Homo sapiens: one gene and its partners. The protein of the gene in region 3 interacts with the protein of the main gene of each other region in a biochemical or structural test. Each region holds a gene or a part of one and is shown on either strand. Other genes may lie near its edges. The genes, in order: GPRASP1, RGS7 and CHRM1.

What was found.
Region 1: the proteins of CHRM1 (region 3) and GPRASP1 form a complex in vitro, tested with the Homo sapiens proteins (one study listed by BioGRID and IntAct).
Region 2: the proteins of CHRM1 (region 3) and RGS7 form a complex in vitro, tested with the Homo sapiens proteins (one study listed by BioGRID).

The regions. Positions count from the first base shown.
Region 1 is NC_000023.11:102,644,946-102,655,540, reverse strand, and holds the start of GPRASP1 (G-protein coupled receptor-associated sorting protein 1), read right to left. Parts: upstream 4,059-10,595; 5' UTR 3,946-4,058; intron 3,855-3,945; 5' UTR 3,808-3,854; intron 3,367-3,807; 5' UTR 3,276-3,366; intron 2,711-3,275; 5' UTR 2,643-2,710; intron 2,321-2,642; 5' UTR 2,243-2,320; intron 1,962-2,242; 5' UTR 1,628-1,961; coding exon 1-1,627. UniProt on the Homo sapiens protein: Modulates lysosomal sorting and functional down-regulation of a variety of G-protein coupled receptors. Targets receptors for degradation in lysosomes via its interaction with BECN2.
Region 2 is NC_000001.11:240,806,154-240,816,168, reverse strand, and holds part of RGS7 (regulator of G-protein signaling 7), read left to right. Parts: intron 1-1,391; coding exon 1,392-1,453; intron 1,454-2,440; coding exon 2,441-2,551; intron 2,552-4,125; coding exon 4,126-4,251; intron 4,252-9,842; coding exon 9,843-10,015. UniProt on the Homo sapiens protein: GTPase activator component of the RGS7-GNB5 complex that regulates G protein-coupled receptor signaling cascades.
Region 3 is NC_000011.10:62,916,599-62,926,619, forward strand, and holds the start of CHRM1 (muscarinic acetylcholine receptor M1), read right to left. Parts: upstream 4,766-10,021; 5' UTR 4,620-4,765; intron 3,844-4,619; exon of another isoform or gene 3,562-3,843; intron 1,764-3,561; exon of another isoform or gene 1,328-1,763; intron 1-1,327. UniProt on the Homo sapiens protein: The muscarinic acetylcholine receptor mediates various cellular responses, including inhibition of adenylate cyclase, breakdown of phosphoinositides and modulation of potassium channels through the action of G proteins.

The DNA of each region.
Region 1 (10,595 bases), on a different chromosome or scaffold from region 3:
TTGTCCTGGACTCACAGCTGACCCCAACACCAGATTCCACACTGGCCGCATCAATGACCCAGAACCACGACCCAAAAATGGTCTCTTCCTCAGCCTCTTGGTTGACCTCTTCACCAGCCCAGAACCAGGAACCAATAATGACCTGTTCATCATCAGCTGCTAGTATAGATTCAGAGGTGGCCTCAGCCCCAGTTTTCATACTGGTCTTTTCCCTAGCCCCAAATAAGGAATCACCAATACGCTCCCCATCAGTCCTTGGTCTGGATTTACTGCTAGCCCCAGTCCCCATACTGGCCTCTTCTTCAGTCCAGAACCAACTCCCAATTATGGACTCATCCTCCACTTGTAGACTGGACTCTATGCTGGCTTCATCTGCCATGCTGGACTCGTCTGTAGCCCAGAACCAGGTCCCAATGAGGGCTTCCTCCTCTGACCTGGCTTCTTGCTTGGCCCTGGCTCGGGCCTTGGTTTTGGCCTCTTCCTTTGTCATTGCTCTGGCCCTGGCCTCTTTCTTGATCATGGGCCTTGAAAAGGTATTAGCATTTTCTTCAGGCCAGAAACAGGACTCTTTTTTAATTACATCTATAGACCCAGGCATGAAATCAATGCAAGCTTCTCGCTTGGCCCTGTGCCTGGCCCTGTTATTGGCCTCCTTCCCAGCTCTCATTTTGGACCTGAATTTGGCCTCCTTTCCAGCCCCAAACCAGGACTCCAAATGGTCTTCATGCTCAGATCCAGAACTTGATTCAACATAGACTTCTTTCTTAGACCTAAACCTGGACCTGCTATTGGGATCTTCCCTGGGCCCAGACCAGGTATTGGTTTTATCTCTGGCCCAGAACCAGGGTGTCTTAACAGACTCATCCTCAGAACCAGAACTAGATGCAATATAGAGCTCCTGGTTAGTTTGGGACCTAGACATGGTATTAGCCTCTTGATTGGCCATGTGCATGGATCTGTTACTGTCTTTTACCCTATTCCCAGGATGAAATTTTGCAGTGACCTCATCTCCACTCCAGAACAAGGAACTCACAGATTTGTCTACCCATTTGAAATCAGAATTAGGAGAGGCTTCTTGTTTGGATGTAGGCCTAGGACAGCACCAGGACCCCATATTGGTCTCCTCCTTTGACCTAAAAGAAGGCTGGAATCCTGCTTGGTAATGGGCCTTCCTTCTAGGAAAGCTCTCAGTGTCTGTATTAACCAGTTCTCTATCCTCAGACAGGTACTTTGTTTTAGCAACCAAGACAGAATCAGTACTGACAAGTGGAGAGGCTATGATATTGGTCTGGGAGTTTCTCTCTGTCTTAGACAATCTTTCAGCACCAAACCTGGGCTGAGCCCACATCTGGGCTTCTTCCTTAAATCGTGAAACAGGTATTGCCTTGGCCTTACTCTTAGGGCGTGCCCCACCCACTGCACTTGTCTCAACTTTGGTGCTTGCTCCAGGCATAACCTTGGACTTATTCTTGGGCCTTGCCCCAGGCATTATCTGGGCCTGGGTCCTAACCTTGGGTCTGACCACCAGAGGGACATCATTCTCTATCTCAGCCCCACCTACAACCTCTTCCCCAGGCTTCTTTTCAGGCTTGACCTGGGCACCAGACTCAATCTCTGCCCCAGTCATGGTACAAGTTACAAAGAAAGTCCAGTACTATACTCCTCCCCCAGTCTAAACCTCAACCACAGATCTGTCACAGGTTTGTTTCTTCACACTCTGATCTTTAGGTGATTGAGGATATAAGCTTGGAAACAAGAGTTAGAGTCAATATCCAGTCCAGTAGTCACTCAGCCTCCTTCCCAAACACAGTCTCAGTCAGTAATTCAATAATACAGATAGAGTGTAGAACAGGCACAACCAAGCTTGAGGAAGACAGAGATTTCCTGGATGGGTGCAGACCCGTTGAGGGTGGTTGTCAGCAGCAACCCCACCACCAGCAGAGCAGCCACTGGAGGTGGATCTAGGGAGAGAGAATGAAATGGGGCTTTGAGTCTCTTCCAATTATGTCATCCCATGCAGAGACATATGCAGTGAGACTGATGTTGAATGCTAGGTGGGACAGCTGGGCTTTGAGAAAGTCTCTCTGGACCGGCTGCCTCCTATTAAACAGGTCCAACAATGGTGGGAAAGTGTGTCGGCAATGGGAGGGGCCAAGAAGTCCCCAGATTGGACCCTAAGCACTCCCGGACCCATGCTGGTCTCCACTACCCCGCCCAAAAGTATACCCACTCTCATACCAACCTTCACTTATGTGGTGCAGTTTCCCCCTCCTTTTCTTGTTCAAGTAGTGTCAAGCCCCACAGCTGACAGAAGGGGGTCCTACAGACAAGTAAACATACAGGAGAGAATGGAGAATGGTAGATAGGCAAGCACTCTGGCTCCTGTGACAAATATCTGTCTTCCCATTCAAGGGTTCAATGTATCTATGGTTTCCTGTGTCCTGGTCCCTGCTCTCAGGTCTTTCTGAGTCACAACACAACCTACACCTATCTCATGTCCCCTGCAAGAAATAAAAAGGATGCTGGCACTGTGCAAATCCAGCAGAGTAGAAGTGGGTCTGCACCCACTGGTCTCAAAGCCACCTGCCATGCTCTCTTTCTCCAACTGTCCCCTGAATTGCCCCCTCCCCCTTCTCACCAACCTCCAGAGGTGTGAGCCAGTCTCCTCCTCCTTGCCTTTCTTGCAGAACTGGCCAGCCTTAAAGCAGGCCTATGGACAAACAGATGAAAAAGTAAGACAGGAAATGAGGGGTGGCAGTAAAGCCCTTGGTAGAGAGACCAACGCTAAGGATAAGAATCCCCATATTATTGATATCTGTCTTTCAACATTCGGGGTTTTGCTGGTGGAATATTCTCGTTTTGTTTAGGCCCTGCTTCAAGGTTCTAGAGATAACAACTCCTTCTCTTGACGTCATACTCTTCTCATTACTCCCTTCTCCAATTCTGAGGATTCACCACTAGGTGCGCCACATCCCCTTGCTCTGCGCAGCAGAAAATGGGGGAAGGGCGCCACATATTCTAGAAAACAGGTCGTGAATTGGTACTTGTCAGTATGTCTCCCTCATCACCCCTACCTCCAAAGCTCACCCTTTCAAGCCCCCAGTTTAGGACGGTGGGGGAGGCAGATGGGGATGGAAGGTGGGGGAAGCGCCTGGAACACCATTAGAGAGGGGAAGATTAAGAGGTGCTCCTGGATGCCTGACCTGCTCTGGTCGCAGTCCCCCACCCCGATTCGGTTCTCCAGTGTTTGGCACCCACCCCACATCCCCACACACCTCCAGAAATCCAGGGAATATTCGTGCTCCTCCTTTATTTCAAGCCTCTCCTCTACAGATGCTCACTGTGTCCTGTCAGAATACGCCAGACCTACCGCGCAGACAGACTTTGACATCAACCTGGAGTCTGTGGGAAGGGACAGCACCCAGGACACGGGGCCCCACAGGCCCCTTTCCGGAATCAGGGCCCGGAGCAGCGAACGCGACCCACCTCCCACGGGCTAGGCACAGAGCTGGGACGCTGGCCCACGAGGGCCCCCCCAGGCGCCCCCCAACTGCCTCCCGGGCGCCCCCCAACACGGCTCCCGTTTGGCCATTTCTCCCGCAGGAGCCTCCCCCACAGCCGTCTCTCGGTACCGAAACCGTCGAGGGCTGCGCGCGGGCGCCTGCAAAGCTGGCTGGGAAGCGGTCAGCGCGGTTCTCCTCCAGACGATCTGACGGTGCCTCTGGAGCCAGCCCCTCAGCCCTTGGTCCGGCCTGGCCCGCACCAGTCACCGCCTCCCCATAGCCAGGGATCTCGGGCACTGCGCACCTCTCTCTAGCGCCCGGCTCCGAACGGATCGTCTCCTCGTTGCCAGGCTGTCAGGGTCCGGGGGGCAGGTTGCCAGCCGGTCCACCCTGGCGGACCACCCCCACACCACGGCCCCCCACCTCACGCACCCCTACTTGCCTTCAGAGGCCCAGAGCCCAGGTCATCGGCCTCCCCCTCCTCTCTTCAGCTCTCCTCTGGCTGCTCTTCAGTTGGATTCCCACCGCTTTCCCAGCGATCCGAATGGCAAAGACGAGTCCCGCCCCCCACGCCTCTGCACCAAACTGGGCAGGGGCTGCGCAGGATGCGGCAAGAACCGCTCTCCGCGAGGGTGTCGGGAAGGGGGGCGGAGGGATACGGCGCGAAAGTGCAGGACGCCCCCCCTCACAGAACCACCATAGTTCCGACCCAGAGGTGGGCGGGGCCAGGACGAGCCCCAGCCGGGGCCTGCGGGTTGGCACCAGGCTGCCTCAGGAGGACCCCGCGGACCCTAACGTGGCGACGACCACCACATTTCTGGCGCTGCTATAATATATGGCACCGGCGGGCGGCTGCGGGGCCGGGCGGAGGACAGGATCGCGAGGTCGCGAAGAGCCGCGCTGGAGGGAGCAGCGGATGGATACCAAACCGTCCCTTGGTGTGTCTGCACCCCCGCCCCAACCGCCCCCCTATAAGGACTGCTGGGTGTTTGCCCTCTCCCCCTCCCTAGTCTGCTCACCCTCCTTCCTGGATGTTAATGGGAGAGGGGGTGTCAGCACTGCAGTGTGGGAGGGGAGAGGCGATTTCAGTCCAGACAGGCCCGGGGTTCTAGGGTGGTCGTCCTGTGCGTTTCTTTCCCAGCTTCGTGGAGCCACGCAGGGGAGGAAGGTACACCTGCTCTTAAGTGAACTCCGGGGCAGGGGGCTCCCATCAAGGACTCACCACTGCCCCTCTTCTAAAAGAAGGTAGACCTAGACCTCTAACCCTAGGAAACCAACCACTGGTCTGCACCAGACTCATTTCTTTCTGCCACACCGCTGTTTCTCATTTCAAATGGTGGCTCACGTTGGCATTGCACCGTCCCCACAGTTGCCCCCAAAAGAGGACCTTTCCCTGTCAGGACCCGCAGGAGGTCATAACAGTCCTCTCTCTTTGATGCCGCCAGGTAGGGATGGTCCTGGCTTCTCTTCGGTTCCCTGTCAAGTCTTCTCTTGCCATGATATTTGGCAGTGTGGAAATGTGGCTGGTATCAAACCAGCTTGGATCTCCGCCACCTGCCACAACTACCTATTGTTTCAGCAGTCATTCTCAGGAGAGGATCCCACCGTGCACCCCCCTCCCCGAGACAAAGCAACCTGGCTCATTTGAATCCTCTTCTTTCACCCCCACATCCGTCCTCTACTCTTGAGCCCCTCCTTTCCCTGCTTCCTGCATGGGACAGACAGAGCAATGTGGTTAAACACCAAGTTGATGTTGTTACTGTTGTCCATTTGAAAACTCATTTAGACACTACCCTCATTGTGTTTGGCAGGTAACGGTCCCCTAAAGATGTCCATGTCCTGTTCTCCAGAACATGTACCATTTTATATTACCTGACAAAGGATCATTAAGATTGCTATTCAGCTGAGTTTAATTTAAGATTATTCTGGGTTATCTTGGCCAATGTAATTGCAAGGGTACTTTAGATGTGGAAGGCAGGGACTCCATGTCAGATTGAAGCAGCATAGAAAGTCTACACTGGTCATCGTTGGCTTTGAAGATGGAAGGAAGCCAAGATCCAAGAAATACAGGCTGTCTCCAGAACCTGGAAAAGACAAAGAAACAGATTCTTCCCTAGAAATGCCAGAGGGATAGCTCCTCTGGCAACATCTTGATTTTAGTGTGGTGAAGCCCTTTGAAGATTTCCAACCTTCCAGGACTGTAAGATAATAATAAATTGGTATTATTTTAAGCCATTCCATGTATGGTAACTGGTTACAGGGTAGCAGCACCAGACCTATCTGGTTTAACTTTTATATAACAAAGTTGTGCATTGTCTTTCAGTTGCCGGGGACCCTCAGATCATGTTACCTGAGCATCCTCAGATGAACCAAGCATGCAATCAGAGGGAGAATGTAAGTGTTTTGAATTAGGACCAGGGCTGAATTAAGAAGTGGACACTGGATGGCAGGATCCAGTCAGATCATGCCTCTCAGCATCACCTCATTGTAAGATCCAAAGCCATCAGGATATACCCTTAATACCCAATGCTTATGAAAACCTGACCCAGCCCCCATCTCAGGGAGACATTATTTTGGGAAGTATCCCTGGTGGTCTCATTACTTCGTTACAAGTAATAAATCCCCTTACTAAATCCTTGCTGTGATCATGGGGTTGATGTCAAACGACTGAACCCACCCACTGTGTTGGTTGGTAACAATAGCAGGAGTAGGAACAGAATACACTCACCATCCTGATGAATTCTATTCCCATTGCCTTTCTTTACCTGTGCTTCAGTCTCTGAGAAATATTTTAGGGCTCATCTCACCAATACAGCCACCAATCCCCTTTACTGTTTTATAATTATGTCCAAAATCACATTTGCACAAGCTTCTGTGGTAATTCTGCAGGTGCTAGGATCTTTATTCCAAGATATTTACTGACAGAGGAATGGTTCTACCAAAAGCTGACAAATTTTACTGTGTGAGACTTTAAAATGTGTGTTGGACAATTTGTTGTCAGTACTCTTAGAAAACATGGTCTTGTATTGGTTAGTATGTATTGAAGTGATAAAGGCCCTACTTTAAGCTTTTCATATGTTAGCTTTGTATGGGTATGTATCAAATAGATTATTATTTTTAAAACCTTTGAGCAAATAAAAGATTGAAATAAGATACTCTGACTGCTAAGCACTATTTATTTCCTCCTATAATTGATTCTAGTTCAATAAATTGCAACAGTCATCTTTCTACTCCTCAGTGCCTACACTAGCACCTGTGTAACCCTGACTTACCACTGAAATCTAAATGTCAGAGCCAAATAATCCATAAGCATTAAGTCCATGATACAGATGCAACTGTGCTCACTCATCATACTCACTGTTTTCTTCCAAATCCCACCCACCACCCCCAAGCATGCTCATGAACTTGCACACCAGCCTATCACTTGCCTGTTCTCCTCTTGTCTGTCTCAATCACCATGGTCATGGACTTGTTTTTGCCTATTTAGTTTTACTTGCCTCTATACTGTCCTTTATGGGCCTCAAGCAAAGCTTCCTTCTGAGACTTCTCTTTTGGTCGAGGCTGAGCCAAACCCTGTGTTTTCTTATAATGTATCCCCTTCTTCTATCTCAAAGTTTCAAAGGTTGTACACAGAAATTAAAGTCCCCTGTAGTCAGGAATAACTAGGCTGAGGTTGGTCTGGTGAACTATATGGTGAAATTGGCCCAACAGATGTCTATTTTCAGTGTAGCCTGAAAATGCTATGGGAAAGATCTCAGCCTGTCTCTACTTCTTGAGACAGGGTACATTTGCAGAACTGGTGGGGAGGCCTGGCCCAAGAATATTTTCAGGTCATATTTGGGGTGGGGTCTACTTCAAGAGAATTAATCTTGAAGAAAAACCAAGTCACGCACAAGGACCCTAGCCCATGAACAATGCCTTGCCATTAGGGAAGTATAGATATTCTAATAGCAACACTGAAATTATTATAGAACTCCTATTTGTGCCTATTCCAACACAAACCCTCAACTGTATATCTGTCATAGCAAAGGCAGGTTTATACATATCCAGGAAATAACTGTCTTTAAGTAAACTCTGTAATGCTCCAGTGTAAGGAACCCATTAATAAAGCATAACCTAAAGAGAGGAAAATATCCTCCTTTCTAACATGGATTTAAACTTTTGACTACTACTCAGATCTGACATCATGAAAACCCTGTGTATAGGTGGAGTTAGGAAATTAGAGAGAACAGTTAATTAGAGGACATTAAATGCCTGGCAATACAGCTTAGAATGGCAGCAACAACTGGAAGAATCACAGGAAAACCCCAAAAATTCAGGACATAGGAAATACCCCTTGAGGATTTTTAGAACTATAGGAGCTGGCAAGGAGAGCTAATTAGCTTTACAGGGAGAAGAAAACCTGAATTTCCACAATGTCAATAAATATTAGAAATTAATGGAATGTCAAATTGCTTTCTATAATAGAAAAAATAATGAGAAAACTACACTACCTTTTGTTGTTGTTTCTCATTAACTAACCATCACTTCCTGCCTCATCATGATAGGGCCTCACCACAGCCTGCATCCAGCCAGCAAATGAGAAAAAGGAGAATAGAAGTAGTTGATTTCCTTCTTAAAATCCATGGTGAGGAAATGCTCACATCATTTCCACTCACATTCCATTGATGGGACTTGATATGGTTTGACTGTGTCCCCACCCAAGTCTCAACTCGAATTGTAACTCCCAGAATTCCCACATGTTGTGAGAGGGACCCAGGGGGAGGTAATTGAATCATGGGGGCCAGTCTTTCCAGTGCTATTCTCATGATAGTGAATAAGTCTCACAAAATCTGATGGGTTTATCAGGGGGTTCTATTTTTGCTTCTTCCTCATTTTTATATTGTCACTGCCATGTAAGAAGTGCCTTTTACCTCCTGCCATGATTCTGAGGCCTCCCCAGCCATGTGGAACTGTAAGTCCAATTAAACCTCTTTTTCTTCCCAGTCTCGGGTATGTCTTTATCAGCAGCGTGAAAACAAACTAATACAGTAAATTGGTACCGGTAGAGTGGGGTGTTGCTCAAAAGACACCCCAAAATATGGAAGCGACTTTGAAACTGGGTAACAGGCAGAGGTTGGAACAGGGCTCAGAAGAAGACAGGAAAATGTGGGAAAGTTTGGAACTTCCTAGACACTTGTTGAATGGCTTTGCCCAAAATGTTGATAGTGATATGGAAAATAAAATTCAGGCTGAGGTGGTCTCAGATGGAGATGAGGGACTTGTTGGGAACTGGAGCAAAGGTGACGCTTGTTATGTTTTGGCAAAGAGACTGGCAGCATTTTGCCCCTGCCCTAGAGATTTGTAGAACTTTGAACTTCAGAGAGATGATTTAAGGTATCTGGCAGAAGAAATTTCTAAGCAGCAAAGCATTCAAGAGGTAACTTGGATGCTGTTAAAGGCATTCAGTTTTATAAGAGAAGCAGAGCATAAAAGTTTGGAAAATTTGCAGGCTGACTATGCGATAAGAAAGAAAAACCCATTTTATGGGAAGAAATTCAAGCCAGCTGCAGAAATTTGCATAAGTAGCAAGCAGCCTAATGTTAATCCCCAAGACCATGGGAAAAATGTCTCCAGGCCATGTCGGAGAACTTCCCAGTAGTCCCTCCCATCACAGGCCTGGAGGCCCAGGAGGAAAAGTGTTCTTGTGGGCTGGGCACAAGGCCCCCATGCTGTGTGCAGCCTGGGCACTTGGTGCCCTGTGTCCCAGCTGCTCCAGCTGTGGCTGAAAGGGGCCAACATACAGCTTGGGCTGTGGCTTCAGAGGGTGGAAGCCGCAAGCCTTGGCAGCTTCCACGTGGTGTTGAGCATGCAGGTGTACAGAAGTCAAGAACTGAGGTTTGGGAACCTCTGCCTATATTTCAGAAGATGTAAGAAACGCTTGGATGCCCAGGTAAAAGTTTGCTGCAGGGGTGGGGCCCTCATGGAGAACCTCTGCTAGGGCAGTGCAGAAGGGAAATGTGGGGTCAGAACCCTCACACAGAGTCCCTACTGAGGCACCACCTAGTGGAGCTGTGAGAAGAGGGCCACCATCCTCCAGACCCCAGAATGATAGATCCACTGACGGCTTGCACTGTGTGCGTGGAAAAGCCACAGATAATGCCAACCCATGTAAGCAGCCAGGAGGGAGGCTGTACCCTGCAAAGCCACAGGGCAGAGCTGCCCAAGACTGTGGGAACCCACTTTTTGCATCTGCATGACCTGGATGTGAGACCTAGAGTTGAAGGAGATCATTTTGGAGCTTTAAAATTTGACTGCCCCACTGGATTTCAGACTTGCATGGGCCCTGTAACCCCTTTGTTTTGGCCAATTTCTCCCATTTGGAATGGTTGTATTTACCCAATACCTACACCCCCGTTTTATCCAGGAAGTAACTAGATTGATTTTGATTTTACAAGCTCATAGGCAGAAGGGACTTGCCTTGTCTCATATGAGACTTTGGACTGTGGACTTTTGGGTTGATGCTGAAATGAGTTAAGACTTTGGGGGATTGCTGGGAAGACATAATTGGTTTTAAAATGTGAGGAAATGAGATTTGGAGGGGCCAGGGGTGAAATGATATGGTTTGGCCATGTCCCCACCAAAATCTCAACTCGAATTGTATCTCCCAGAATTCCCACGTGTTATGGTAAGGACCCAGAGGGAGGTAATTGAATCAGGGATTGGTCTCTCCCGTGTTATTCTTGTGATAGTGAATAAGACTCACAAAATCTTATGGGCTTATCAGGGGTTTCTGATTTTGTTTCTTCCTCATTTTTCTCTTGCTCCCGCTGTGTAAGAAGTGCCTTTTACCTCCTGCCATAATTCTGAGGCCTCCTGAGCCATGTGGAACTGTAAGTCCAATTAAACCTCTTTTTGTTCCCAGTTTCGGGTACATCTTTATCAGCAGCATGAAAACAAACTAATAGAGGACGCAATCACCATTTATTAAAAATCTTGTCCGTTCTCTATATGTGGTGGTGGTAATGAGAGAACCAGATATCCACAGATAAAAGAATAAAGTTGTCTCAGCAAACTAAAAATAGAGGAGAACTTCCTCAACTTGATAAAGGA
Region 2 (10,015 bases), on a different chromosome or scaffold from region 3:
ATGTTGTAATTTTAAGTATTGTAATTACTTGAAAATGTATCAATATATGGTAATGGTTTTCAAAACCCCTCACTCTTTATTTACCCAAATCCTTGTTCCTCTAACCAATTGTAAAAATCACATATGCTGATTTGTAAGTGACTCCATCATCAATAGTTACTTTGTACTCCAAAGCTCTCTTTTAAAGAGTAAGAGGACAAGAGGTTGAGAACATTGTCACACTTCCCACATCCAATGATAGGACATTTTCTTCACAAGAGTGCTTACTCTCGCTTTCTGCAGTGCTGATTTCTCTCTACCTCTTGAAGTTTTTTCTTATCACCACTGGCGTACAGCCATGGAGTCATGCTATACACTACCTCTTTTTTTTAGCATTTGATCAATGGTGTTGACTCCAAGTAATATTTCAAAGCAAACTCCAGTGTCTGAAATCAAATAATCTCATGATTGGTTCAGTTATGGGGCTTTATTCTCATTTTGACTCTTTTCCTCTGATATTTTATTATAATATAGTTTATCAAGAGTGTAAAATATACTTTTCTAGTATATTTACAATAATCAGGAAGGAAAAGTCATTCAGAGCGTTTTTAATTAAAGTTTTCTGTGTGTGATTATTCCATGTGAGCATTTGTCATGAATTGTTGATAAAATTATTCTCAAAACACATATCATTGATACTTTCTTGGTATTAGGAGATAGGATTTATTTTGAAATTATAGTAATAAATACATTTATTTTCTAAATTTGGAGGGAAGTATGATTCTGGATTTAGGTATTCACCATGAATGAACGTTTAAAATCTCTACAATTTTATTTTTTATTTTTTTGAGACAGAATCTTGTTCTGTCACCCAGGCTGGAGTGCAGTGGTGTGATCTCAGCTCACTGCAACCTCTGCTTCAGAGTCCCAGGTGATCCTCCTGCCTCAGCCCCCAGAGTAGCTGGGACTATAGTACCTGCACCACTACACCTGGCTACTTTTTGTATATATTTTTTTACAGACAGGGTCTCACTATGTTGGCCAGGCTGGTCTCGAATTCCTGGGCTCAAGTGATCCACCCACCTTGACCTCCCAAAGTGCTAGGATTACAGGCATGAGCCACTGCACCCAGCAAAATCTCTACAATTTTAAAATAAAATCACATTTTGTTAAAGTAGGCAGAATGGTCAAACTCATTGCTCTTCTAAAGTGATATCAATTGTGTTCAAATTCCAACATTTCATTTTGTTAACTCTTTAAGAGCCCTCTGCTTCTATTTTTTTAACCAACTTTGAAATTGTACTGACGTAGACTATACTCTTGTTCAGAATTGCCCAGCTGATCATGATTTAGAGTGGAAAATTGTGAAAATGTCATTACTTATGTAACTCCTTCTCTAACCCTCTTTTCAGATAAAATATTGGCAAATACAGTTAGATAGACATCGGTTAAAAATGTCAAAAGTCGCTGACAGGTGAGTATTTCAAAGTGTCTGTATAAATTTTAAAATTTCATATGACAATTACATGTGTTTAAAAATGAAAGAGAACTGTGGGGACAGGAGTTGGGACAGATAATTGGAATCCTGTAAGTAATGTGATTTTGTTTTCCTTTTTGCACATAGAAAAACTTTCAAAGAACTCTTTTGATGTAGTTTAAATGACAGAATGATTATAATTGTCTTAAATGTCTAGACATCCAGTCCTTGTTCCACTAAGAATCAGATATAGAGGATAATTCTGCAGAGTCTAGCCTTTTCACTCCTGCTGGAAGACATGAAACTTTCCATTTATTGATGACCTTTGGGCAAACTGGAGCCTCTCTATAAACTTATTTTAACAATGACAATTGACACTGTTCCTGCCTGACTTCAGAATATGAATGAAACTCAAATTTCAGATATTTTCCTTTGCTTCATTTAAATCTGTTCTTAATGCCATTCATATTCTTCACTTTTGGGCATTGCCAAATCCTACCTCCCCAACTTCTTTCCCTTCTCCCTTTTTAAAATTTTTATATACATTTAAAAAACTTGTCAGTGGCTCCCATTTTACTTAATTCCTGTAAATACTTTTGACAAAATTTCCCTTTTAAGCCCTTCTCTCAGTTGTATAAAATCTGTTCTGCTGTGGGTGGACTGATTAACCAAAGATTGGAACTGACTCTTAGCGGTGCCCTTCACACACTGACCTCTTCCATAGTGCTTCATGTTAACCAAGGGATACTGATTTACATGGCTTAGGCATGGGTAGAGATGGAATCTTTAGCCACAGTTGTCTGCCAAGAAGCACAATAAGTTGTTGCATGAAAGTTACTGAAGCGTGAAGATTGCCATTGGATTTCATGCTTTAAGTGAACAAGGATTCCTTGGTCCCACATTTTTATATTGTTTTCCCTGCTTTGGACTGGCTGCAACCCCAGTCAGAAAACTAAAGAAACTGGAAATGTTTTTTCTCCTTAGTCTACTAAGTTACACGGAACAGTATTTAGAATACGACCCGTTTCTTTTGCCACCTGACCCTTCTAACCCATGGCTGTCCGATGACACCACTTTCTGGGAACTTGAGGCAAGGTAGGTGGCATTTTATCTTTCTCGCCCATATGTTGCTTTATTTCAGGGTCTGAGTGAAATGGGAAGGATTTTATTGTTGGCTAATTGTGAATGTAATTTTGTTCTTTATCTACATTGGCCTATATCTAACATTCTTGTTCGAGATCATGGCTTTTGAAACTTAGACATTTGCATTTGCATTAAGATTTGCATTTGCATTAAGATTTGCATTGCTGGAAAGACCGTCCCAAAATTAGAGGTGCAATTAGTCAGAGTTAGGATCTTCAGCTCTTGAAATTTAGCTCATTGCTATTATCTTCCTGGAAAATTCACGTAGCCACAAAGTCTCATGTAGTCAAGTAAAGTGAATGCTAAAGCCATACATACTTAAGCCCAACACAAGTATGTCTTTATAAATTCAATTTTAAGACAGAATGAGCTTACCATAGACACTGTAAGAGAAACTGGCAAGACACTTCCTAAGAAAAGCAAAGCACCACTTAGGACTCCATAGTTTCTTTCATGAGCTATCTAGGGAAAGAACTACATCATCAGTCTTAACAGACTCATAAGAGGATCATGGCGTATCACTTTACAAAGAAAAGATGGGTGCTCTGTCACACTTCTAGCAGTTCTCTAGATTGCATTTCTGGTCTCTCTCACTTTTGCATCCAGCCATGAATCTTAAACACTGGACATGCCCAGAACTCTTCCTCCACAAGCTAAAGATTTTATAGATGAGAAAGCTGGAACCCCAAAATGTTGTGACTCAGTTGGGATTAGGTCACAGATTTAATTGACACCAGAATCATTAGCTAGTATTGAGATCTTTTGGTTACCAATGCATTTTCCCCAGTTCAATATACCTGCATGACCCTGTGTGGCGTAGTGGTTAAGAAATGTGTGCCTGGCATGGTGGCGCACACCTGTAATCCCAACACTTTGGGACGCTTTGGTGGGTGGATCACCTGAGGTCAGGAGTTCGAGACCAGCCTGACCAAAGTGGTGAAACCCCATCTCTACTAAAAATACAAAAAGTAGCCGGGCATAGTGGCAGGTGCCTGTAATACCAGCTACCCGGGAGGCTGAAGCAGGAGACTCTCTTGAACCCGGGAGGTGGAGGTTGCAGTGAGCCGAGATCACGCCATTGCACTCCAACCTGGGTGACAAGAGCAAAACTCCATCTCAAAAAAAAAAAAAAGAAAAAAGAAATGTGGCACTGGGGTCAGAATATCTGGATCTTTACCCCTTATTACTTGCCTGACATTGGCAAGTGATAATACTGTGCCTCACTGTCCTCATCTGGAAAATAATAAGATTAATAGTGGCTATCTCATAAAGTGGTTGGCAAAAACAAAAAGAGACCATTTATGTAAAGTGCCTGGCACATAATGCTCAATAAATGTTAGACTTTATTATTAATACTAATGTACACGATGATTTCATGCAGAGCCGTTAATCGGATATATATATTTTTAAAGAAAAGGTAAAGATGGGAACTTCGAGGCACACATGATTTTGAAGGGGAATGTAATAACAAAAAAATGGGAATTCTAATGAAAGGAATGTATTTGCCTTTGTTTTATCTTCTATAGCAAAGAACCGAGCCAGCAGAGGGTAAAACGATGGGGTTTTGGCATGGACGAGGCATTGAAAGACCCAGTTGGGAGAGAACAGTTCCTTAAATTTCTAGAGTCAGAATTCAGCTCGGAAAATTTAAGGTAAAACACATTGCTTGGATCTTATAAGCCAGAGAAATACTGTCTGTGATGTGTCTGGTTATTTTGGAGGTAATAGATCAATTATTCTTCCACTAACATCATAATGATGTCATGAACCCATTGAATTTCTGCCACCTAATGAAGGGAAAAGAGATAGCAAGGCAAAGGCTGTCCAACGTATCAATTTCTTATAACTTATTTTTACGCCGTCTCTGTATCTCCAGATGTTTTAACTATACAAATTTGGTGGCTTTGAAATGGACTCTGTAAAGAAATGCAGTACAGAGAACAATGTTTGGCAAAGTGGAGATTGGCCAATAACATTTATGAAGTTCAATTAAAATATCACCTATTTGTCATTGTTGACTATCTTTGCGTATCACTTCTCAAGCAAGTTAGAGAAGAAGAGACTGGGCAGCTATATCAAATAACTTGAAACCAAACTATTGGGCTGTCTCATTCTCTTTGCATGTTTAAATAATAGCCACAGGGCAATTGAGAGCAGCACAGCATTGAGCTGTTCGTGAGAGAGTGACACCCATTCTGCCCATCTGTTGTAAACATCATCTTTATATATTTTTAAAACTTGCTAACATAAGGAGGATCTGAAAATTGCATTTTTAAATATAAGACATTAGAGTGGATTTTAATAGCTCTATTTAACATCATTGAAGGGAGTGATAACTTTCCACTATATAAGACTGTTGTTTCATGAGTTCTTTCATTCATTATTCTTTTGAAAGCTGATGCCCAATTTTTACTTTTCCATGACTTATGCAGTCCTGTAAAATTCATTTACTGAAAGTTCTCTGCATTCATTTATTTTCATTGGAACGAAGTAGTGCCAGGCATGGTCACGTTCTTTTCAGGAGATTTAACAGGTAGGAATCCCAAACCATTCAGAAAGATGTAGGACGCTGACACATGTCGCATGGATGAAGCAAAATGACCACAGACAGAACCCGGAGGAATGTAACTCTCTGTGTGTGCCTGGCATGGATTGCTGGCATGCAGCTTCCTATTCTCCTTCCAGTTTATGGGAACCCTTCATGCTTGGGCTTTTGCAAGATCTTGCTGCTAAAGTTGCTAAAGTTCTGTATTGAGACTACTAATAACATTTTCTATATTAGGTCACATTGTCAATAATTGAGTGCAAGAATTCATTAAAAGGCTAGGTGCGAGGGCTCACGCCTATAATCCCAGCACTTTGGGAGCCGAGGCAGGTGGCTCTCTTGAGGCCAGGAATTTGAGAGCAGCCTGGCCAACATGGCAAACTCCATCTCTACAAAAAATTAAAATTAAAATTAACCGGGCATGGTGGCACATGCCTGTAGTGCCAGCTACTGGGGAGGCTGAGGAATGAGAATCGCTTAAACCCAGGAGGTGGAGGTTGCAGTGAGCTGAGATTGCACCACTGCACTCCAGCCTGGGCAACAGAGCAAGACTCTGTCTCAAAAAAAAAAAAAAAAAAAGAATGCATTAAAAATAAAGCAGAGATAAAGGATCCTTGAGGCATTTTAGTGGCTAGGGAGATGGACATTCCTCTCATTCTCTAAGTTTTTGAAAACATGCTGATATCATTTGTATCATCATGAGTAAATAAATAAGTAATAAGCCTTACCAGCCTCACCTAGCCAAATAAAAACATCGCCTTCTCTCATTAAAATTACAGTCTATTGGTAGATACAGACAAGAAAACAAATCACAGCACAAAATCATGGGTGTTTAGTTGGGAGAAGCAGAGAGGGATGCCTAGCCCAGAGTTAGAGATCAGCGAAGGGATACTAGGGGAAATCGCTTCTAGGCTAAGAGCTGGACAATGGGGAGGAGATAAACCATCAAAACAGGAAGAGAGAAGATGCCTTTGGAAAAAGAGGATAGCATGTGCATACTAGGTTTCAGGCATGAATTGAATTCCTGCCAATTTCTTAGTTCAAGCTTTAATCATTTCATATCTTAATCATTCTATGCCGTACTAGACTCTAGGCTAAGTGATTATATCTAAGAAATATTAGATTATCTTATATATATACACACACATTATATACATACACACATATACATATATTTCTTGAGTATCTACTATATTGCCTATCATATGTTTCCTTAGTAAGTATAGATCAGTAGATAAATGAAAGATGTAGATTAATTCTTGAATACCTACAAGACACCAGAATATATTTTATATCTACTACTTTTATAAGTATGCTGTTATATTTTGCATTCATTATTTCTGATCATCACACATCCAACCACCAAAACAACATAAAATGTAAATATTGCCTCATTTTATAGATGAGAAAAGCGTGGCTGAGGAAGGTTAAGCCGAGAAAGTGTGGCTAAGGAGGTCAGATTGCATGTAAGTGGCATTCTTGGTTTCCTACAAACCAGTACCAAGCTACTGTCCACTGCTCCCCAAATCTGAGCCCTACTCTGCTTCCACTGACATATCTGTGTCACACACTGAAGGAGACAAAATGGTCCAGTGGTCAACAGGGCTGTGAATTGCACTTAAAATAAAATAACTCTCCGTGCATCTTACCTAAACAGCTGCCCTCCTGCTATCAGTGAGTGTGTCACTCGTCTGAGCATTTTTTTTCAAATATTAGGACAGGAAAAAAATAAGAAGCACTGTTTCTCGATAACTACTTATGCTTCAAATATACCCTCTGCTCTCCCTAATAGAGAGCAGAAACTTGAAATTTTATGATGTATTTCCCTCATTCTTTTTTTTGAGCAAAACACATAGCATAGAGCAAGTGCTAAGAAAACATAGTAATATCATGAGTTTTTATCTTTGAGTGACTAAAAATATGCCAAGTACTTTTCAGTGCCTTCTATATAATTTATATCATTAGTATACATTAACGGAATTAATTTAATCAACTAATCCAATGGAAACCAATTAATCCAGTGGAAACCCAGTGAAATAGGCGTTATCATCCCATTTTACTGATGAGGAAATCAAGAATCAAAGACATTAAAAATACTTACTTAGCTTCCACCTATATAAAGGATATAGGATTTTTTTTTTTTTTTAAGAGAGATGGGATCTTTCTCTGACACCCAGGCTGCAGTTCAGAGACACTGTCATAGCTCATAGCAGCCTTGAAATCCTGGGCTCAACTGATCCTCCCACCTCAGCCTCCTGAGTAGCTAGGACCACAGGTGCAAGCCATTGCACCTGGCTCCTCCATGCTATTAAGCTATTACAATAATTACAGTAATGGTGAGAATAAGAAAGGCAATGATGCTGTTAGAAAGACCGTGTGAGGGAGTGGTTGTGAGCATGTCATCTGCTGCAGATCTTCTGGGAGCAAACCTCAGCTGTGACAGTAATAGTGAGCAACCTTAAATAAGCAACTTAATCTTCATATGCTTAGTTTCCTCTTCTCTAAAATGAGGGAAATAATAGAACTTGCCTAATAGAATTACTGTGGGAATTAAATGAGTTAATATAGGTGAATCACTTAGAGCAGTGCCTGCACTTACATAACAGTGTAGGTGTGGTTATTAACTTCTCAACCCCTTTATATTTTATGCTTATTTCCAGGCCCATTTCAGATGTCACTGGATTTAGAATAGCTTTGTCTAGATCCCCCTTTTCCAATCCAGCACTTGCCCCAGCAGAGGGGCTCTTTCCTGCTTGCCTTTCCCAGACCGTCTAGTTCGTTCTCTTCCTAGAGAGCCATTCATGTACTTCCTGGTGTTACGGCCAATTAAATGGTTTATCTTTTTCTCTACTCATTCTTTGAGGACAGAGACTGTTTTGATTGATGTGTTCAGAGTGTGCTGGCATGAACTTGCCTGAGCATATGTTAATTTCAACACTTCTGCTCCCTCGGATTATGCGTAGTATTCCCTTTTTTTTTTTTTTTTTTTGAGATGAAGTTTTGCTCTTGTTGCCCAGGCTAGAGTGCAATGGCATGATCTCTGCTCACTGCAACCTCCACTTTCCGGGTTCAAGCGATTCTCGTGCCTCAGCCTCCCGAGTAGCTGGGATTATGGGCATTCGCCACCACACCCAGCTAATTTTTGTATTATTAGTAGAGATGGGGTTTCACCATGTTGGCCAGGCTGATCTCAAACTCCCGACCTCAGGTTATCTGCCCGCCTCAGCCTCCCAAAGTGCTGGGATTACAGACGTGAGCCACCATGCCCAGCCTCGCATAGTATTCCTATTAGAGTGCACAGTGTCTAAATCTGTGTTTTAAGAGGGAAAGGTCTTGAGCCTTCCTTTCTAAAAGTCATGGTGGTAGTTTCCTGTTTGAGGCGTTGTCAAACTTAGATTATCCTCTGCTACATATATCTATAAAAAAACAAAATCTGGAAATGAAAACTCAAAAATCACTAGACTGAGTAGTAGTTGATATTCTAATTCTAGCTCATGCACTTCATTACTGATTTCTGATTATTTATTAATGGTCAAGTTAAAGCTTAGTAGTTACGAAGGTACTGCTGATCACCTGTGCCTCTCTTAAGACTCTGTAGCCTGAAGTTTGCTGTCTCTGTGGCCCTCTTTGCCTTTCTTTGACTTCGTCTACTATTAGAGCAGTAAGAGTGTTTATGGAGGATAACACAGTCCTAGCAGCTCCTTTTTCTAGTAGAGTGTTTGTTTCTATTAACAAATTATGATATACTCATTTATCTTTTAAACATTATTTCTAGAGATCTAACCAGCAAGCTCTAGCCTAGAGCAAAATATTGAAGAAATGCAACCGATTAATACAATGTGGCCCCTTCTCACTAGACTTTACCACTTGCTATTATCAACCAAAACACACTCCCAGGTTCTTTCAGTATACATATGGTATAAATAAGTCTATCTTCAGAAGTAAGTCAGTATATATTATTCCGTGGCTTCTGAATTGCAATGATGCCTCTACACATTTCAACTTTTCAAATAATTCCATGTGAAAGCTTGCTGCTTTGGTCATTCCATAACTCTCTCAATTAAATTACCTTAACATTAGTTAATTGTTTTTATTTTTCCAGCCAGAGCATTTTCTGATCTTATGTCCAGGCCTCTTTTAACTCCAGCAAAGCTTCTTTGTAATTCCCTTACCACCTAGAACAGAAAAGGCTCTCCATACTAGCCCCCATTGCTGAAATGGACAGAACATCCAAAGAACACAGTGTAATGCACAGCTTTATCTCCCAATTGGAGGCTCCATGTCCCACACCTTTAATTCCCTTCAAACTCCTCTTTGTTTTCAATCAACAGTCAGAAGTGCTACTTTCCTTAGGTAAAATCAGTGTTATACGGGGCTCTGACAGATCTGCTTTTAACAACAAACACTTAGAAGAGAGAGTTTTTCATGTTTCTTTATATTTTTATTAATATTTTTTATTTATATTTTTAAAATATTTTTATTAATATTTTTATATTTTTATTAATAATTATTTTTCATAATAATCTTCCAAAGAAGATTATCCTTTGAACACAGTCAGTACCACCCTGATACTGGAAGCCCTCAGAGAAAGTGAGCTGGCTGTGAGTCGTCATGATGAACTGCATGATCCGTAAATGTCACAAGAATTTTCAGATGATGGGCCATCAGAGTAAACACCCGATCTCACATTCTGCATAGATTCTGGCTGGCAGTGGAGGACCTGAAAAAGAGGCCTATTAAAGAAGTACCCTCAAGAGTTCAGGAAATATGGCAAGAGTTTCTGGCTCCCGGAGCCCCCAGTGCTATTAACTTGGATTCCAAGAGTTATGACAAAACCACACAGAACGTGAAGGAACCTGGACGATACACAT
Region 3 (10,021 bases):
ACCACCATAATTAATGCCTCCTGGATGGCAGGCACTTAATATATATTCTTTCCCTTAATCACAGGACACCTCAGTGGACATCCCATGGGGGGCTCTATCTTTATATTATAGGTAAGGGCATTGAGGCTCAGGGTGCAAAGTAGATTTCTGATGGTCCCACAGCAGTGGTGGAGGTGGGATTCTGACCCGGACCTGTGGGCTCCAAGCCTGTGTTCTTTCCACCTCAGCAAAACCCCTCTGCCCCACTTACGCGGATGAGGGCTAAGGCCTCTCACCTGGGGCAGGTGGCAGGTAGAGAAGTCACCAGAGGTTCCAGAGAATTGGAACCTGATTCTTGCCACCGTCTAGATCTTCTGCCCCCTATGACGCAGTACAAGAACAGACCCATCAATGAATGACTGCCTTTCCTCTATATCAGAAGCAGAGGTCCTCACCCCCAGCCCTCTCTTGGACAGAGAAAGAGCTCAGGAGAAGATTCCTGGAGACGTGCTCTAGTCCCTTCTGTGTGACCTTGTCCAAGTCTCCTTAACTGTCGATGTGGGGCAGTCTTCTACCTGTCCAAGGTTCCTGTGGGATCAGTGAGATGGTGGCTGTGAAAGAATCTGGTTTCCCATGATTGTGGCAGATTCCCCTGGGGAGACCAGCCCTAGGCTGAGGATTAGGGTATGGGGTTCAGTGGTAGCTCTAGAATCCCTAAAGAAGGAGGGACTTAGGACAGCCAGCTGGTTGAAAAGGGGGCTTGAAGCTGCATTTGCAGGGCACGTCCTGTGAAGGCATCCATGGGGGCTGGGGCTCACATATGCAGTGAGTTTGTCAATGGGGATTGCAGTGGGCAGCAGGAAGACCCCCCGAGGCAGTCCTTGGCACTGCCTCTGCCTAGCTGCCAGCTCTTGTCTTGCTATGTGACCTTGGGTAAATGACCGTCCTGACCTGGTGGCCCTTCTGTGGAATGGGGTGAACTCCTAGGATGAGTGTTTGTGTGTGAGGGTATATGCATTGCTGAGCAAGGCTGGGAATGGTGGAGGTGGGTCCATAGCTTTGTGGGGACTCATCCTCAGAGGGTGTTTCACCTGGAGTTCAGGAAGATAGTGAGGAAGCAAGGAGGGGCTTCTCTCCAGGACTGTGGCCTCCTGATGAAGGCTGTTAGAAGGCTTTAATACTATCACTAATACTCCTTACACATAATAGCAGCAAAGAAAAATTACTCATATTATAGTAACTGGTATTTACTGGCTGCATACTATATACCAGACATGGCTCTAAGCATTATATACATAAACATTATAAACTCGATCTAATCTACCTGTTACAACTCCTTGTGAAGTAGGTCCTGCTATCCCCAGTTTGCAAAAGGCCTAACCTGAGGCTTCAAGACCTGAAGGACCTTACAGCTCATCAGCGATGCAACCAGGATTTGGATCCAGGCCGTCTGCCTCCGAGACCAACCTCTTGAACCCTACTCCTGCCCTTGAGGGGTTGCGGGGGTTTGCCAGCCTCCTTGCCCACCTCAGCTAGCTTACTCAAGCCCAACTTTGAATCAGTTAACGATGAGCAATCGGTCCTTCTTTCAGAATCTGGCCTCCTTTGTGTGCGCGGCAGTGTCTGTCGTATATCTGTGTGATGTGTGATAACAGTGCTGTGGGAAGAGGGTGGGTCTACTGGAGCTCTTTAAAGGGCAGGGTAAGGGCTGCGTCTGTCTCATTCAATGCTTTATCCCAGGGCTTGGCAGATAGTAGTTGCTCAATAAATACCTGTGGAATAAATGTACGTGTGTGTACTCAACTTCAGACCCTGGAGCCTGAGGGTGAACCTGTGGGGGTCAGGACCAGGTCCAGAGCATGGTCCAGAGGCCCCTCTTCTCCCTTGAGCTCCCACATCTCATCTGCCAGGTCCCTGCTTCCCTGAGTGAGGCCCTGCCTGGCTGGAGAGCATAGGAGAAAAACAGCCAAGAGCATCCTTGTCTGTAAAGTGGACCAAGGAAACCCTGCCTCACCCGGCTGCAGGGAAGCTAAGTGAGGTGCCAGGACAGACATGGACGTGCCAAAGCATTTGTCACTGGGGAGAGGAGAATGTTAGCCTGGGCTCAAAGGGTTAAGGGATGAGGTCAGAGCCTTTATTACAGCAGGCCAGACTGTTGACTCCCAGCGCCCAGGACCAATCCCTAGGGGCTGGGGATCTGGCTTGTGAGAGCAACTGGGAGTGGAGAGAACCACTGGGGGAGGCAGGGAAAGGGAAATGGGGAGAGGGATTCCTGAACACCAGGCTTTTCTGAACGTACCGCTGGCCAAAGAGTACAGAAGGGGAGGGAGGGAATGAGGGGATGCTGGGGAAGATATTTAGGAGGGAGGAGCGGAGCCATCTTGTGATTCTGGGCCTGGAAGCTGGTAGAGTCCTGGTTAGGAAGAGGGGATAACATTGGGGAGTGGGAGGTATGTGGAGGGGGCTGTGGGGTTGGGCACCTGAGGCCTCACATATGCAATGAGGAGGGCGCTCCTTCTGGCCAGGTCTACTCACTGATCCCTTCTGCTAGGGCCTGACCCCAGAAGCCAGCCCATACGAGGCAGCTCTCCCCTCGGGGTTAACTTTTCTTTGACAGCAGCTCTTGACCCATTAAGGTGCACAAAACTTCCACCCCTGATGTCTGGCTTTGAGAATGAGGGAGTAAACAGAATTTATCACATTTTTAAGGCTCAACAGTTGCCATTGGGAGGGCCAACTAGTCTTGTGGAGGGCAGCAGCCATCAGTTAAATGCTACATGAAACACACTGCTTAGCTGGAAGAGAAGCATCAGCCCTAGAATCACTGCCAAATTTGCTCACCCATGATGGATCTTAAGCAGTTGCCTGACTTTGGCCAGACCATGACAGAGCCTGGGCATGAGCAGCTGGACCCTAGACCTCACTCTGCCAGTGTGGCATCAGAGGTTCTGGGTCCCTCATCCTCCTCTCCGCAAGCCCCCTGCTCCTGGCTCCTTGCACTCTCCTCCTCATTTCCTTTCTTCTCTCTCCCTCCCTCCTCCATCCTTGTAGGCATCACCATGGCACCACAGCAGAGCAGAAACCCAGCGCAATTCACCCACCTCTCCCCGCCTGCTGGGAGCCCAAGCTTCTGCGTCTCAGAGCTTACTGCGCCCCCTGCTCTCCCACCCCATCTTCCTGCTCATGGAGGCGGCAGCGCAGTGTTGTGCTGAGGATGCGGAGAAGGGGTCCGAGCCCCAGCTGGATCCCTACATATCCCTTCTCCGACCATGAGCATGTCCCTTTCCCTTTCTCAGCCTCAGTCCCTCCATACAATAGAAAGCCTCCTTTCTAGGTCTGACATGACCTCTGGTTAGCCCCTTCTTGACACTTTGGACTCCCCATTACACTTCAGAATCCAGTTCTCAGAACTCCAACCGCCAGCTGTCAGCTGCGAGCCAAGACCCACATCTTCTGCAGCCCATTTCACTATCTCCTTCCCTTTCATATCTCAGCCGCGATAGCGACTGCAGCTTGCCTGGTGGCTGAGGTCAGAGGGCAGAGAACTCTCATCTGACAGCCCACTGAACAGCTGATTACCCTGAGAAAGGAGACTGTCTGGCTACTGGAGACTGCCTGACTCCTTCCAGCCAGTTGGGCAGGGGTCTTGGGTCAGTCTGGGTGGAGCTGCAGGTGTGTTTTGTGCAAAGATGTGAACCCCTCTCCATTGGCTCTGATAACCTCTAAGCTGCACATGTCTGGATGACCTAATGAGAGCTGACGACCCCCTCCCCAGCTGGCCTGCCCAGGAGCTGACAACTCTACAAGCATCAGAGTTCCTGGCCCCTAGCCCATCCCCATGTTGTGCAGTCTGCGGGCACTGGGGTGAGTACCTGGCGTGGGTGCCCATTGGTATCCATGCATTGCCTGGATATAGGACTGAGACCCACCCTGCGGGAGCCCAAGATACTAGAAACATAAGGAGGGTCCTCTGGGCCCCTGCGCACGTCAGGGCCACCTTCCCTGGCTAGTGTGGCCACCCACATGCCCATTTGTCCCCAAAGAGCCCTGGGGCTCTTTGCCTGGTCTCCTGCTGGCTTCTGGCCTGACACCCACCTTGGCTTCTAGCTTCTCTATCTGGCCAGCAGCCTGATTCAGTCCATCTTGGGGGAGCTGAGGTGGACGGGGGTGGTGGGTTTCAGGGTGCCCTGAGGGAGGACAGGAGGTTCTGGGACTGGCACCCCCATCAAGATGGGGGTCAACCTCCCACAGGATGCTGGTGGCAAGGGCTGCTTCCTGGCCCTTTGCCCTTCCCACTCTGCCCCTAGGGTGTTGGGGGTTCTGCTTGCTACCAGGCAGCCTAATCCCTTCTGGGCCTCAGGTCCAGTTTCCTGAGGGGGATCTCCATCTCCTCTGCCAGCAGAAGCCCAGAAAAACATCAGCTATATCCACTCAAAGCCAGGAGGCCGAGTGTTTGGAGCAGTCAGTGTTCAATGCTACAGAGCCCCCTTGCCCTCTAGACCCCTCCCTGGCCTCCTCCTATCTCTGTGAGTCCATCCCTATTTCCATCTCATCCTGATCCCTGCCCTCCCCCGCTCCCCAGGACCCTCCTACCCTCTACCTTAGTGCAGCCCCTCCCAAGCCCTCCCAAATGTACTCACCACGGGGCTGAAGAGGGGTCTGTAGGGTCCTCAGCCCCACTGCCTCCCTGGGGGCCTGCGGCGTCTCCAGGGACCCAAACACCTGGCTCCCAGGGGGAGCTGCGCCCTGTGCTGGCAGCGGGAGAGGCACAGCCAGTGATTGGCATGTCCCACCCCCTGGCACGCCAGCCTTAGCGGGGAGGGAGAAAGGGAAAGAGAGGGAGGGAGGAAAGGGAGAAAAGGAAGGGAGGGGAGCTGGAGGGAAGCCTCAGGCAGCGTCTGGGGTTGGACTAGGTTCTGGAGTGTGCCCCCCTCCTTCACCAGGGCACCCAATTTGAGCCCCAAGAGGGAGGAGAAAGGACATGAGGAAGGCGAGCCCAGGAAGGCTAAAAGTCCCGGACGGGAGAGAAGGCGGATACAGGGAGACAAACACCCACACCCACTGCACAGACCCGGCGGCACACACACCCTCACAAAGGCACACTGTTTCCTTGGGCTCCTCCCCCCACCCAACCTTAGAGCCCCCAGCCCCTGTGCACCATGCCCCAACACACATGCCCTGGTATTCACATGCCTGCTTCCCTCGCACACACGCCCTCCCCCCTGCACATGCCCACGCACCCACCCACCCAACTACACACCCTGCTCTTCCTCCCTGCTGTGAGAGAGCTAGATTCCTTCTGTTTGGAAATGACACATTGGGCCTCACGTGAGAGGCTCCAACTTGGAACAGACCCAGAGGGCTGGCGCACCCGCCCGGGGGCTGAGTGAACGTGCCCGCATGCTGGGCTGTGTGCGCTAGCATTGGGCTATGCATAGCCTGTTGTGAGGGTATATGGGTGTCTGCTTTTCGGGGATGAGTAGAGGGCCAGGTGCCTGCCCCATGTGCGGCTGAGTGCCTTGCATATGTGTGTCCCTGTGTACTCATGTCACCATGCAGCCTGTGTAAGTGCAGGTGTGACCCTATCAGTCTGGAGGCAGGACGCGTGTGCACACGTGTGTCTGTATCTGATGTGTGGCTGAGTGTTGCCCAACTGTGGAACTTGCTAATTCTGACAAGTGAGGCAGCCTCTACCTGCCTGCTCCACCCCAAGCTTCCACTTGGAAGACAGACAGGCAGACAGACAGCTCTCCTCCCAGCTTGTCAAGCTCTGTCTCCCCTGACTCCCACTCAGGGCTCACAGGTGTGTACCTGGGAGGAGATGAGCCCTCCTCCCAATCTCCCTCAGCCCTACTGGGTGAGGCCAGCATCCCTCCCTGCCAGGCTGGTCTGGACTTCTGTGTTGAGCTTCCTCAGAGATAGAACCCCTGGGGGGCCGTTTGCCCTAGAGATGTGGGTCCTGCACCGCCTCTGTTTGGCCCTAGAGACCTCCCCGGGAGCTGACTGGGGAGGAGAGTTGGAGGCTGCAGGGACTGCCTTCTGGGGCTGCTGTGTTCTTTGCCCACTGGGCTGTGTCGAAGTCTTGGGGTGAGAGGTGGGAAGGAATGGGAGCATCAATTATCCCCATTTTGTAGGTGAGAAATCTGAAGAGCAGAGGTATGATTAGCATGTGGTGGGCAGGTGTTTGGGCTCAGGTCACTTGGCTCTAAGCCCAGGGCTCTGGAGTCTGGGGCAGGGGTTTCCCCTACTCATTTCCCCACCAAGCGCCGCCCCCCGCCCCCACAACCCCGCCAATGCTGGTGCCTGAGGGTAACCTGGGGCTTTCTCACCCAGGAGCCCAGTTGGCCAATGGAGCCAAGTGGAGCTGAAACTGGAGTTCCTGGGGTTTGGTCAGCAGCTACTGGTGGGCACACGTGGCAGGTACATGTGGGGGCATCTGTGCTTCTCAAAGCCAGCTGGGGTTCCAGCAGGCACCCAGTCCTCCTCCCTGCTGAAGTCAAGCAGACGCTGCAGCTTGGAGAGAAATCTAAGTGAGCATCCCCTTTCCATCCCAGGGTCACCCAGCCGGTCAGGGTTGGGTCAGAACTTGACCAGTCCCTACCCTTGGGCGCGGACTCGGGATGCCCCCTGCTGGGCTGCCCTGGGTTTGCGGCTGCGGCTTGGGCGGCGCGGTGGGGCTGCGTGTACTTGTGCGCGTACACGTGGCTGAGTGTGGGGGTGTTAGGCCTCCACGCTCAACATCCATTTCCGAATCTGAATCAGGCTCCCTCTTTGCCACCTCCCCCCAGTCTCCTTGGTCTCCCTTTTCTCTTCTCCCACCGCCTCTGCACACGTCCCTTTAGAAATAAAAACACTTATTTTGTGGGCGGGTGGGGAGGGTGTCCAGCTTTCCCCTGCCTCCTCCTGAGTGCCCCCCTCTGTCCCACGCGGCTTTCTTCTGAAGTCTGTGCAGTCGCGGACGCAGGGGGATGACGCCCCCCGCCACCCCCACCACTGTATCACTCTTCTGACGTCCCCGCCCAGACTTGGCTAGCTCACCCTTATCAGATGGGGAAACTGAGGCAGGAGGGGAGAAGAGAGGTACGGCCTGGAGAAGCGCTCCCGCCCGGCTCGCTCACCACCCCCGCACTCGCGCCCGATTTAGCCGCAGGGAGGCTGGGAACATTGTCTTTATTTTAAGCCTCCGAGTGCGGCACGAACGCGGCTGCTCGCGACAAAGGGCTTCTTGAAGCGGCTGCAGGCGGCGCACGTGGGGCTTTGGCCCCGCCCCCGCGCGACCCCCTCCAGTTCTCCCTCATTTCTGGCTGGGTTGGGTGGGGTCTGACTCTCGGGTCTCGGCTCCTGCTGGTTGTTATTTTTGGTCGCCTGGTCGAGAATTCAGTCCTCCAGGCCACCAAGGGAACGTGGAGTCGCCCTTGCGCGGCTCGGCCCCAGTCTCGGCCCCCTTACTGTGCAAGAGGAGAGTGCCCTGAATGCGAATTCAGCTTGGCCTTTTTCTAGTTGAAGCGGCCTGAGCAAGCTAGGCCCCCTCTCTAGGTCTCAGTTTCTTCATCAGTGACAAGAAGGGTAGAAATACCTCCCCGACCAGGCTGTTTGACGGGTTAGTTGAGCTTCTGCAGGTAAAACGTGGCACGTGCGTCTGCAAAAAGTGAAAGCCATCACTGCGGTTTTTTTTTTTTTTTTTAATACAGGGTTTCGGTCTCTTGGCCAAGCTGGAGTGCAGTGGCGCGATCAGAGCTCACTGCAATTGCCTGCCGGGCTCAAGCGATCCTCCCACCGCAGCCCTACCCCCTCACCCACTCTGAGTAGCTGGGACTACAGGCGCGCGCCACCCCACTGGCTTTTTTTTTTTTTTTTTTTTTTTTTAAATTTTTTATTGACAGGGTTTCACCATGTTGGCCAGGCTGGTCTTGAACTCCTGAGCTGAAGTGATCCGCCCGCCTCCGCCCCCCTCAGCTTTCTAAAGTGCTGGGATTACTGAGCCACCGCGTCCGGCAGTTCTTTTTTATAACACTTATTGAGCACTTACTATGTGTCAGGAACTGCTAAGTGCTCTCTCTCTCTCTCTCTCTCTCTCTCTCTCTCTCTCTCTATATATATATATATATATATATATATATATATATTTGTGAGACAGGGTCTCACTCTGTCGCCCAAGCTGTAGTACAGTGGCGTGATCTCGGCTTACCGGCAACCTCCGCCTCCCAGGCTCAAGGGATTCTCCTGCCTCAGCCTCCCGAGTAGATGGGATTACAGGCGCGCGCCACTACCGCCCAGCTAATTTTTGTATTTTTAGTAGAGACGGGGTTTCGCTATGTTGGCCAGGCTGGTCTCGAACTCCTGACCTCAAATAATCCACCCACCTTGGCCTCCCAAAGTGCTGGGATTACAGGCGTGAGTCACCGCATCCGCCCGGCCTCTATATTCTTATTATTTTATTTTATTTTATTGTTTTTTTTGAGACGGAGTCTCGCTCTTTCCTCCAGGCTGGAGTGCAGTGGTGCGATCTCGGCTCACTGCAACCTCTGCCTCCCGGGTTCAAGCGACTCTCCCGCCTCAGCCTCCCGAGTAGCTGGGACCACGGGCGCATGCCACCACGCCCTGCTAATTTTTTGTATTTTTAGTAGAGACGGGGTTTCACCTTGTTAGCCAGGATAGTCTTGATATGCTGACCTCCTGATCCACCCGCCTCGGCCTCCCAAAGTGCTGGGATTACACGCGTGAGCCACAGCGCCCGGCCTATATTCTTTAATTTACTTTCACAACTCTATGAGGGAGGTTCCATTATTCCCATTTTACAGATGAGTAGATTTACAAGAGGCGTGGGTCCCTGTGGTTTCATGGAGGATGAGGTCAGTGCGCCTGGAGCCATCCTGGGGCTGAGCACCTGCTGCAGTTCCAGAGACGGCAGGGACTGTGGGACAGCATTTTTAAGATTCCCAGGGTCCGGCAAGGCCGCAGGTGGGTGGAGGAATGAATGAGCAGGCTCCGGGAGTGCGCTGCAGACCCGGAGTGTAAGTCTCCGCCCTTGGTTTTAATCCGTGTCAGAAACTCAAACCCAGCTAAATGTGCCACTTTTACAGTGCCGCTTCCTCTGTCCTGGGGCACACATTCTGAGTCCGGGTGGGAGGCAGCGGGTCGGCCTAAGGGCGCCCCTCCTCGCATCTTCACCTTCAATGGCCTTAGGTCCTCAACTTCCTCTCTCCCCCCACTCCCTCCCGCCAGGACTCCTGGAGAGACTAATTCCCAGATGTAAAACAAGAAACTCAAATCCAGGGCGGGGCTGCGTATAGAGCAGGCCCAGTAAGGGGCCCCCAGAGTCCCCGCCGTCCGAGGCGAGAGCGGACGCGGCCACAATAAAGGCATCTTATTGGGACAGGAAATCGGGATTTTCCGAGTCCGGTTTCGAAATTGAGGCCTTGTAGACGCTTCACCTTTCCTGCCCGGCTACGTGCTGGGCTCCGGAGGGCAGTGGGAGTGCGGAGAAGCAGCTCCACTCCCCAGCCCCAAGTCTTGCGGGCAGTTCCCGAAGAAAAGATGGGTTTGGGGCGGTCGCGAAAGCGGCGCCTCGCGTGTTTTCCTGCCGTTCCCGGGTCCTTATAGCCCGGCCGGAGACTCCGCTGAGTTGACTCGGCGCCCGGGGTCCTGCCAGGGGTAGTGAATGCTGGGAACTGAGATAACGCAACGTGGCGTTTCGGACTCCCCGCTGGACCGGGCCGTGGAGAGGAGCTGCGTTCCCACAGGGCATCCCTAAGCGTCCTCTGTCCCCGCCTATGAGGACACAACCTGGAAGTCCAGGCCACTGGTTGCCGCCTTGGAGTTGGATGTACCGTGAAAGTGCGGCCCCGACGCAGGAAGCAGGCACCTTCCCCCGCACTATGGAAGCTCGCGCCCCTCGCTTCTCGAAACACCTGATTCACGGCGTCGACCCTGCTTCGCTGGGTCTGCGGACATTGGGCTCCTCAGCTTTCCGCCACAGGGTGTACGCGCCCGGGCCCAGGCGGGTGTAGGTCCCACGTGAAACTGCTGGAGCCCGGCGGAG